Linked DNA regions of Homo sapiens. The protein of the gene in region 1 interacts with the protein of each later gene in a biochemical or structural test. Each region holds a gene or a part of one and is shown in the gene's direction. Other genes may lie near its edges. The genes, in order: RNF41, MYO1C and UBASH3A.

The links.
Region 2: the proteins of RNF41 (region 1) and MYO1C form a complex in vitro, tested with the Homo sapiens proteins (one study listed by BioGRID).
Region 3: the proteins of RNF41 (region 1) and UBASH3A form a complex in vitro, tested with the Homo sapiens proteins (one study listed by BioGRID).

What each region holds. Positions count from the first base shown.
Region 1 is NC_000012.12:56,215,366-56,219,017, reverse strand, and holds part of RNF41 (E3 ubiquitin-protein ligase NRDP1), read left to right. Parts: intron 1-2,404; 5' UTR 2,405-2,589; intron 2,590-3,652. UniProt on the Homo sapiens protein: Acts as E3 ubiquitin-protein ligase and regulates the degradation of target proteins. Polyubiquitinates MYD88. Negatively regulates MYD88-dependent production of pro-inflammatory cytokines.
Region 2 is NC_000017.11:1,466,131-1,468,782, reverse strand, and holds part of MYO1C (unconventional myosin-Ic), read left to right. Parts: intron 1-286; coding exon 287-380; intron 381-474; coding exon 475-530; intron 531-659; coding exon 660-795; intron 796-872; coding exon 873-943; intron 944-1,205; coding exon 1,206-1,303; intron 1,304-1,441; coding exon 1,442-1,541; intron 1,542-2,652.
Region 3 is NC_000021.9:42,413,822-42,417,473, forward strand, and holds part of UBASH3A (ubiquitin-associated and SH3 domain-containing protein A), read left to right. Parts: exon of another isoform or gene 1-2,487; intron 2,488-2,620; coding exon 2,621-2,790; intron 2,791-3,652. UniProt on the Homo sapiens protein: Interferes with CBL-mediated down-regulation and degradation of receptor-type tyrosine kinases. Promotes accumulation of activated target receptors, such as T-cell receptors, EGFR and PDGFRB, on the cell surface.

The sequences.
Region 1 (3,652 bases):
AAAAAAAAGAAAAATAGGCCAAGCATGGTGGCTCACGCCTATAATCCCAGCACTTTGGGAGGCCGAGGCGGGCGGATCACAAGGTCAGGAGATTGAGACCATCCTGGCCAACATGGTGAAACCCCGTCTCTACTAAAAATACAAAAATTAGCTCAGCATGGTGGCACATGCCTGTAGTCCCAGCTACTTGGGAGGATGAGGCAGGAGAATCGCTTGAACCCGGGAGGCAGAGGTTGCAGTGAGCCAAGATCGTGCCACTGTACTCCAGCCTGGCGACAGAGCAACACTTTGTCTCAAAAAAAAAATAACATATATATATATAATAAATATGTATATATTATATATACCTTATATTAATATATAAGGCAGGTATCATTTTCCCTACTTGACAGTTGAAGCAACAGAAAAACTACAGCAGGGTTACTTGACTTGTTTAAATGTGTAGATTTGGGGGTGGGCGCAGTGGCTGGTGCCTGTAATCCCAGCACTTCGGGAGGCTGAGGTGGGAGGATTGCTGGAGCCTGCCCAGGAGTTCAAGACCAGCCTGGGCAACATGGCAAAACCCCATCTCTACCAAAAATACAAAAATTAGCCAGGCATGGTGGTGTGTGCCTGTGGTCCCAGCTATTTGGGAGACTGAGGTGGGAGGATTGCTGGAGCCTGCTGGGAAGGCGAGGCTGTAGTGAGCTATGATCATGCCACTGTACTCCAGCCTGGGCAATAGAGCAAGACCCTATCTCAAAAAAATAATAATAATTTATGTGGGCCAGGCGCGGTGGCTCACACTTGTAATCCCAGCATTTTGGGAGGCTGAGGCGGGTGGATCACCTGAGGTCAGGAGTTCGAGACCAGCCTGGCCAACATGGTGAAACCCCGTCTCTACTAAAAATACAAAAATTAGCCGGGCATGGTGGTGGGTGCCTGTAATCCTAGCTACTCTGGAGGCTGAGGTAGGAGAATCACTTGAACTCGGGAGGCCAAGGCTTCAGTGAGCCAAGATCGCGCCATTGCACTCTAGCCTAGGTGACAGAGCGAGACTCTATCTCGAAATAATAATAATAATTTATGTGAAAGCACTTTGGAAACATTAAAGCAGCATCCCCAGCCTTTTTGTGGAAGATAGTTTTTCCACAGATGGTGGGCGAGGGGATGGTTTTGTGATGGAACTCTACCACCTCAGATCATCAGGCATTAGATTCTCATAGGGAGTGGGCAACCTAGATCCCTCGCATGGGCAGTTCACAATAGGGTTCATGCTCCAATGAGAATCAAATGCCGCTGCTGATCTGACAGGACATGGAGCACAGGCCTTAATGCTCGCTTGTTTCCTGCTCACCTCCTGCTGTACGACCCGGTTCCTGATAGGCCACAGTCTGGTACTGGTCCATCTGGGGATTTGGGGACCTCTGCATTAAAGCATCATCCTGTACACATAATGTATTATGGATCTATGCATTTTGCTTTTTTTTTGAGTCAGAGTCTTGCTCTGTCGCCTAGGCTGGAGTGCAGTGGCGCGATCTTGGCTCACTGCAACCTCCGCCTCCTGGGTTCAAGCAATTCTCCCTGCCTCAGCCTCCTGAGTAGCTGGGATTACAGGCATCTGCCACCATACCCGGCTAATTTTTATATTTTTAGTAGAGATGGGGTTTCGCCATGTTGGCCAGGCTCATCTCCGACTCCTGACCTCAGGTGATCCACCCGCCTCGGCCTCCCAAAGTGCTGGGATCACAGGCGTGAGCCATCGCAACCTGGATCTATGCATTTTGTAGTCACAGATTTGGAATCATTATTACTGGTAGTTATGTGCACTGAATAAAAGAATCTTAAATCTCCAACAACTCCTCTACTTTTCCTCTTGTCTTTTTTTTTTTTTTTTTTAAGACGGAGTCTTGCTGTGTCGCCCAGGCTGGAGTGCGGTGGCGCGGTCTCGGCTCACTGCAAGCTGCAGCTCCTAGGTTCACGCCATTCTCCTGCCTCAGCCTCCCGAGTAGCTGGGACTACAGGCGCCTGCCACCTCGCCCAGCTAATTTTTTGTATTTTTAGTAGAGACGGGGTTTCACCGTGTTAGCCAGGACGGTCTTGATCTCCTGACCTCGTGATCCACCCGCCTTGGCCTCCCTAAGAGCTGGGATTACAGGCGTGAGCCACCACGCCCGGCCTCTCTTGTCCTTTTCTTTCCCCCTCCCAGCTATGTTCAAATCTACTGGACCCCGTGTGTGTGCTTCCTTAGCTGGTGAGCTCCCTCCTTAGAAGGTAGTCTTATTTGCCTAGCACTGAAAACTGTAGTGCTTAATGGAGTTGTCTCATCCTCCCCAACCAACTGCCAGATCCATCTGTCCAGTCTCCTTGCCAAGTGGAGGTAGTTCTCCTGACTCTCCTTTCTCTTCCTTGTTCCTATTACTAGAGTACTCCTGATTGTGACATCACATTCATCCCCTGGGCGATGGAGCTTGTCACTGGGAAGGAATACTCAGTCGGAGAATAGCCAACAAGATGGGTTACTGGGAGAATCTCTTCAGTGGCACTGAGTGGAGGCATCAGGGGGTTGGAGCCTTGTGAACAGGGAACCTGCCCCCCAACACTTGGAAGGTAAAGAGCTTTGATTCAGAATCCCATTCCAGGCCTCAACCCTCTTCTCTGTCGCTCGGGATTCCTTCTGCCCTTGAAAGTCCAGTTCTTAAAACTTCTTTCTGCAGAAAGCTTTCTGTGATTAATCTGTACCATTTGTTCTTTTTTGTATATTTACAACTTACATAAATTATTGACTTTTACTTGTTAATAATTTGCTTAATACGTTTATGTGTTTTTATGTGTTTTTTTTCCTATGTACTCATTGGGCTCAAGCCTACACCTTAGTTTGAGGACAAGGATTATGTGTTTCTTCTTTTTTTTTTTTGAGACAGAGTCTTGCTCTGTCGCCTAGGCTGGAGTGCAGTGGCATGATCTCAGCTCACTGCAACCTTCACCTCCTGGGTTCAAGCAGTTCTCCTGCCTCACCCTCCCAAGTAGCTAGGATTACAGGTGCCCACCACCATGCCCAGCTAATTTTTGTATTTTTAGTAGAGATGGGGTTTCACCATGTTGGCCAGGCTGGTCTTGAACTCCTGACCTCAGGTGATCCACCCACCTCGGCCTCCCAAAGTGCTAGGATTACAGGCGTGAGCCACTGCGCCCAGCCAGTTGTTTACTGACCTCTTCTTTGGGTTTGACCTTTGGGAGCCCAAAGAAGGGGCATGGCGCCATTGCCGCTGTTTGAGTCCTTGCTCTTTTGGACCTCTCTTTTTTTTTTTTTTTTTTTTTGAGACAGAGTCGTGCTCTGTCACTGGGCTAGAATACAGTGGTGCAATCTCGGCTCACTGCAACCTCCGCCTCCTGGGTTCAAGCGATTCTCCTGCCTCAGCCTCCCGAGTAGCTGGGACTACAGGTGCGCACCACCACGCCTGGCTAATTTTTGTATTTTTAGTAGAGACGGGGTTTCGCCATGTTGGCCAGGATGGTGTTGATCTCTTGACCTCATGATCCGTCTGCCTCAGCCTCCCAAAGTGCTGGGATTACAGGCATGAGCCACCATGCCCGGCCCTCTCTTCTCTTCTTTATCCCCATCACCACCACCACCTAAGTTCAGACTCTTACCGTCACTCTCCTGACTTAG
Region 2 (2,652 bases), on another chromosome or scaffold:
TCTCAGGGCCACCAGGGCCTGATGGGGTGGGGAAGCATTACCAAGGCCAGTTTCAAAACCCCGCAGTGCCTTCATGACCCCGCTGGGGAGTGCTTGGTGGCGGCAGAGGGTCAGGAAGTGGAGGGTTGATGGGCGTGTGGGGGGCAGGGCTCAGCCTCCTGGTGCTGAGCCAGAGAGGGACCAGCAAGCGGGTGAGGGAGGCTGTCTCAGGTCCTAAGGCTGGCTCTGCCCCCCCAAGATGGTGCTCCCCACCATGACACTCTCCTCACCCCCCTTGTCTCCTCAGCTGCAGCAGAAGGCCGTGGCTAGTGAGATCTTCAAGGGCAAGAAGGATAATTACCCTCAGAGTGTACCCAGGCTCTTCATCAGCACTCGGCTTGGTGAGCCCCTGACTTTCCAGCACTCAGACCTTTCGTCACCATCCTGGTCCCCCATTGCCTCCACTGACTTCCCTCCCCGCCATCTGAGTTGCAGGTACAGATGAGATCAGCCCCCGAGTGCTGCAGGCCTTGGGCTCTGAGCCCATTCAGGTAAGAGCCTGCCTGCAGCCCTGAGTCCAGCAGCACGGTGCTACTGCCTGAGAGCTGAAGGCAGGTCAGGGCAGGGGCGGAGCCTTGGGAGCCTCTCCCCAGCCCCTTCAGCCTGGCCTCTGTCCCCAGTATGCGGTGCCTGTTGTGAAATACGACCGCAAGGGCTACAAGCCTCGCTCCCGGCAGCTGCTGCTCACGCCCAACGCCGTCGTCATCGTGGAGGACGCCAAAGTCAAGCAGAGGATTGATTACGCCAACCTGACCGGTCAGCCAGGGTCCAGGGCTGCAGGGGGAGGGCCCTGCTCTGACCCTCGACCTCTGACCTTTGCCCTCTCCCCTCAGGAATCTCTGTCAGCAGCCTGAGCGACAGTCTTTTTGTGCTTCATGTACAGCGTGCGGACAATAAGCAAAAGGTGCCTTTTCATGGATGGGGAGGAGTGGTGGGGGATGGGGGAGGTAGATGGGGAGGTGGGGTGGATGGGGGAATAGGGGGTGTGGGGGTGGATGGGGAGGTGGGAGGGTGGATGGGGGTAGATTGGGGGGTCAGGAGGTGGATGGGGAGGTGGGAGGGTGGATGGGGGTGGATTTGGGGGTCAGGAGGTGGATGGGGAGGTGGGGCGGGGGTTCCTCAAGTTCTGGGCAGGGCCTGACCCCTCCTCCTGCCTGGCCCCCCAGGGAGATGTGGTGCTGCAGAGTGACCACGTGATTGAGACGCTGACCAAGACAGCCCTCAGTGCCAACCGCGTGAACAGCATCAACATCAACCAGGGCAGGTGAGGCGCGGGCGGCCCCCGGGGACAGGGCGGGGGTGGCGAGGGGGCTGTGTGGGCACCCAGGGACAGGGTGGGGGTCCACCTTAGGGTTGGGGGTCTGCCTCCATGGAAAAACCCTCACCCACCCCGTTCCCCCAGCATCACGTTTGCAGGGGGCCCCGGCAGGGATGGCACCATTGACTTCACACCCGGCTCGGAGCTGCTCATCACCAAGGCCAAGAACGGGCACCTGGCTGTGGTGAGTGGGGCCTGCTTTCCCGCTTATGGCCTGGCTGTGATAGCCAAGCCTTCCTTGGCTGTGCTTGGCAGAGCCCAGGCACCTCACCATGGGCCTTCATCCAGAGGCCATCATACCACCTCTTCCATCCCTTGGCCCACCCATGAGGGCCAGAGAGAGCCCCTCAGTGCAGAAAGTTGTAAAGGTGGCAGCACGGTGGCTCATGCCTATAATCCCAGCACTTTGGGAGGCTGAGGCGGGTGGATCACCAGAGGCCAGGAGTTTGAAACCAGCCTGGCCAACATGGCAAAACCCATCTACTAAAAAAATGCAAAAGGCTGGGTGCAGTGGCTCACACCTTTAATCCCAGCACTTTGGGAGGCCGAGGTGTGTGGATCACCCGAGATCAGGAGTTCGAGACCAGCCTGGCCAACATCGTGAAACCCCATCTCTACTAATAACACAAAAATTAGCCGGGCGTGGTGGTGCACGCCTGTAATACCAGCTACTAGTGGGGGCTGAGGCGGGAGAATTGCTTGAACCCAGGAGGTGGAGATTGCAGTGAGCTGATATCATGCCACTGCACTCCAGGCCTGGGGAACAGAGTGAGATGTCATCTCAAAAAAAAAAAAAAAGGCCAGGCACAGTGGCTCACGCCTGTAATCCCAGCACTTTGGGAGGCGAAGGCAAGTGGATCACCTGAGGTTGGGAGTTCGAAACCAGCCTGACCAACTGGAGAAACCCCATCTCTACTAAAATACAAAATTAGCCGAGTGTGGTGGCGCATGCCTGTAATCCCAGCTACTTGGGAGGCTGAGGCAGGAGAATCGCTTAAACCCGGGAGGTGGAGGTTGCGGTGAGCCGAGATTGCGCCATTACACTCTACCCTGGGCAACAAGAGCAAAATTCCATCTCAGAATTTGTATACAAAAAAGTTAGCCTGGTGTGGTGGCGTATGCCTGTAGTCCCAGTTGCTCAGAAGCCTGAGATGAGAGGATTGCTTGAGCCCAGGAGGTTGAGGCTGCAATGAGACCCAAGATCTCACCACTGCACTCCAGCCTGGGTGACAAAATGAGACCCTGTCTCAAAAAAAAAAAAAAAAAAAAAAAGGCAGCACGGCAATGCAGGGAAG
Region 3 (3,652 bases), on another chromosome or scaffold:
GAAAGATTATTTAGACTCATATTCAGAATCATCAAAATTCCCTTCTCTCCAAACACCAGCCCTGGCCTGGAGACCAAGGCTACCATTGGGGTTTAGTGGAAAGGATTGTGGACTTGACGTCAGAAGATGTGATTTTTTTCTGTGTCCCTGATGAGTGGCATGACCTTAATCAAGTCATGTCCACTCTCTCTGTCTCTTTTTCTTTCTCTACAAAACAATGAGGGCTCTCACTCTTCAAGAACAATGTTGCCTGAGTCTGTGGCCCATCCTGCCATAGTTCCCGGGACACAGAAGGCACTCAGTATTGCTGAGATTTGCCGACTCTAAAATCTGACGAGGCCGCAGTGCCTTGGTGGGAGGGCTCCCCACTTTCTCTCTCTGGGAGCGTGTCTGTCTGTGCTCAGACATGTATGAAGCACAGATCCTGGCCTGTAAATCCATCCCTGAATCCTGGGCTTCCACTTGGATGGCAGCTTGTGAGTCTGGAGATCGAATCTGCTGAATAATTAGAAAGTCGCCCCCGGTCTTTGTGGATTAGTATCCTTTATCAAATGATGGCTCTTTCACACCCAGGCCCTCCCCCAGTGAACCTCATTGGCAGCATCTTAAAAACAGGAAGACTGAGGCTGCAAAGGGTGAAGGGCCTGCCCAAGGTCCTGTGGTGTGTAGAGCGGTGTCCCCTAAAAATGTTTGTCCACCAGGAACTTGGGAATGTGACCTCACTTGGGAATAGGGCCTGTGCAGATGCGATTGGTTGGGAGGAGGTCACACTGCATTAGGGTGGGTTCCCGTAAGGGTAGAGGCCGCACAGAGACACAGAGAAGCCATGTGCCGACTGAGGCAGAGACTGGAGTGATGTAGCCACAAGCCAAGGGACGCCTGGGGCCACCGGAAACTGGAAGAAGCCAGGAAGGACCCTTCCCAGGAGCTTTCGGGGAGAGCACAGCCCTGCCAACACCTTGATTTTGAACCTCTAGTCTCCAGAAATGGGAGGCAATACATTTCTGTTGTTTGAAACCAATCTAGTCCCCTAACCAGGCTGGCGGAGCAGGGACCTGAACCCACCTCTGTCCTGCTCCATGCTGCCTGGGTTCATGCTGGGCAGCCCCACTTCCTGTGGGAGCCAGCGTTGACCTCACATCTACGCCCCGACCCTAAGCAGGCTGTGTCCTGCCCTTCCATGGCCCATGCTCTCAGCCTGACACCGAGGGGGTGGAGGGGACTCTCTCAGTGATGAGTGACCAGTCACTGCTCTGAAGTGGCCGAGGTCCCTCTTGGGGCAAATGCATGAGGCCCCCTTGCCCGCGTTGGTCCTCCCCAGTGAAACGTGCCCATAGGCACAGGTCCGCAGAGAGAAGGAAACGCAAGGACCCGTTCAGAAGTCGGTGTGACTCACTCTGACGTCAGCAACCTGCAGTGGGTCTTTCCCAGGCCACACTCACTCGCATGGCAAGGCGGTCCTCCCCGACTGCTAAAAACAAAAGTCAGGAAAGGAATTTCCCCACCACCTACACACTCATGCTGCTCCCCACCACCTACACACTCATGCTGCTCTGGGCTGTGCAGCCTCAGTGCCCCAGCTTTCCTAGAGACCGTGGGAGCTTCCCATTTGCCTCTAAAGGCTCACCTCTCACGTGGGAGACAGCAGTGAGCCCCAACTTCGGGGCTCCAGGGAAAGGCTTGCATCAACCTTGACCTTTTTTAGGGGGTGAGCAGATCCTGTTTGTAAGTGCCCTGCCGTGGAGTGGGGGCAGGGTACGTCTGTGCACCGACACGGCGTCTCTAGCAGGAAACTTTAGGTTAGGAGGCTGATTTCCCACTGCAGCCTTGGCGAGCAGGCGCTGCCGTCCTCCAGCAGATGCTGCTGAAGCAGAAATTGGGCAGGCCCAGAGGCTCAGTCAAGGTCACCCTGCAAAAGGGGGCAAAGTGCAGCCTAAAACTAGGTCTATCTGACACCAAAGTTTGTGTTGTTCCCGTCAAGACACAGACCGCCTCCCTAGGACATAAAATACTTTGTGGCTCAACTGAAATCAGATCCTGGCTGCTTTGGTGATGCCAGCTGCTCTGCTCAGACTGACCTGAGAGCCCCTGGCAGGACCAGGGAGGGCTAGGGCCACAGGGGCAGAGGACACCCAAAAAGACCTGAGGCTCAACCACTCCCAGGACTTCCTGCTTCACCAAAACAAGGTGAACCTTAAAGACACTGTGTGTTTTATAGTTTTGTTGCCTAAAGAGTTTTCTTCTTGAAACTCTACGATTAAACAAAAAGCCGTTGAACTGGAGCTCGGGCCTGCAAGTCCAGGCCACTGGGTAACGTGCACACCCCGGGGAATGGAGGAGCCGTTTACTCTGTGCATCTGAATCGTGCATTCGGGCAGCTAGCCTGCAAACCGATAGGCCCCCGAGACCCTGAACCCACATCTCCATATCGTCCTCTTTCCTACTTCCTGGAAAAATCTACAGGGATCCAGCCATCTCCTTTATGATGTGAGTTCTGAGCGGGCCAAATGAGCTCTGAGTTCTGAGAGCCCTTGCCTTGTGGAGGAAGCATGGAGGTCGGAGGAAGGAGACATTTAGGTAACGGTGTCCTGGCACCCTCTGTGTTTCCCTGATTTCACAGACTGCTCCGTGAAGCCTTGCACCAAACAGCTGCATCTGACCTTGGCCCACAAGTTCTACCCCCACCACCAGAGGACGCTGGAGCAGCTGGCCAGAGCCATCCCCCTGGGCCACAGCTGCCAGTGGACCGCAGCACTCTACTCCCGAGACATGCGCTTTGTGCACTACCAGGTGAGAGAGCTGAGCAGGGGCTCATAAGAAGCAGATGAATGGGCTGGGCTCGGTGGCTCACGCCTGTAATCCCAGCACTTTGGGAGGCCGAGGCGGCGGATCATGAGGTCAGGAGATGGAGACCATCCTGGCTAACATGGTGAAACCTCGTCTCTACTAAAAATACAAAAAATTAGCCAGGCACGGCGGCGGGCACCTGTAGTCCCAGCTACTCAGGAGGCTGAGGCAGGAGAATGGAGTGAACCCGGGAGGCGGAGCTTGCAGCGAGTGGAGGTAGCATCACTGCACTCCAGCCTGGGCTACAGAGCGAGACGTCTCAAAAAAAGAAGCAGATGAGTGAACGGCCACTCACCTGACAGCATGTACCCCCTGGAGCCCTCCAAGGGAGATATGTTAGTAGCAAGGAAAATTTCTATTGCTTCTCTAAAGCCATTCTCTTTCTTGTGCAATTTACAACCAGCATTCTTTTATATGTGAGTTAGAGATGCACAGACAACAAAATAGAAGCATTTCCAATATTAGAAAAGGAAGCTGGGTGTGGTGGCTCACACCTATAATCCCAGCACTTTGGGAGGCTGAGGCAGGTGGATCACTTCAGGTCAGGTGTTCGAGACCAGCCTGGGCAACAGGGCAAAACGCTGTCTCTACTAAAAATACAGAAAATTAGCCGGGCGTGATGGCACGAACCTGTAATCCCAGCTACTCGGGAGGCTGAGGCAGAAGAATCACTTGAACCTGGGAGGTGGAGGTTGCAGTGAGCAGAGATCGTACCGTTGCACTCCAGCCTGGGCAACAGAGCGAGACTGGCAAAAAAAAAAAAAAAAAAAAAAAAGACAGAAAGGAAAGGACTATTGTAAAGATC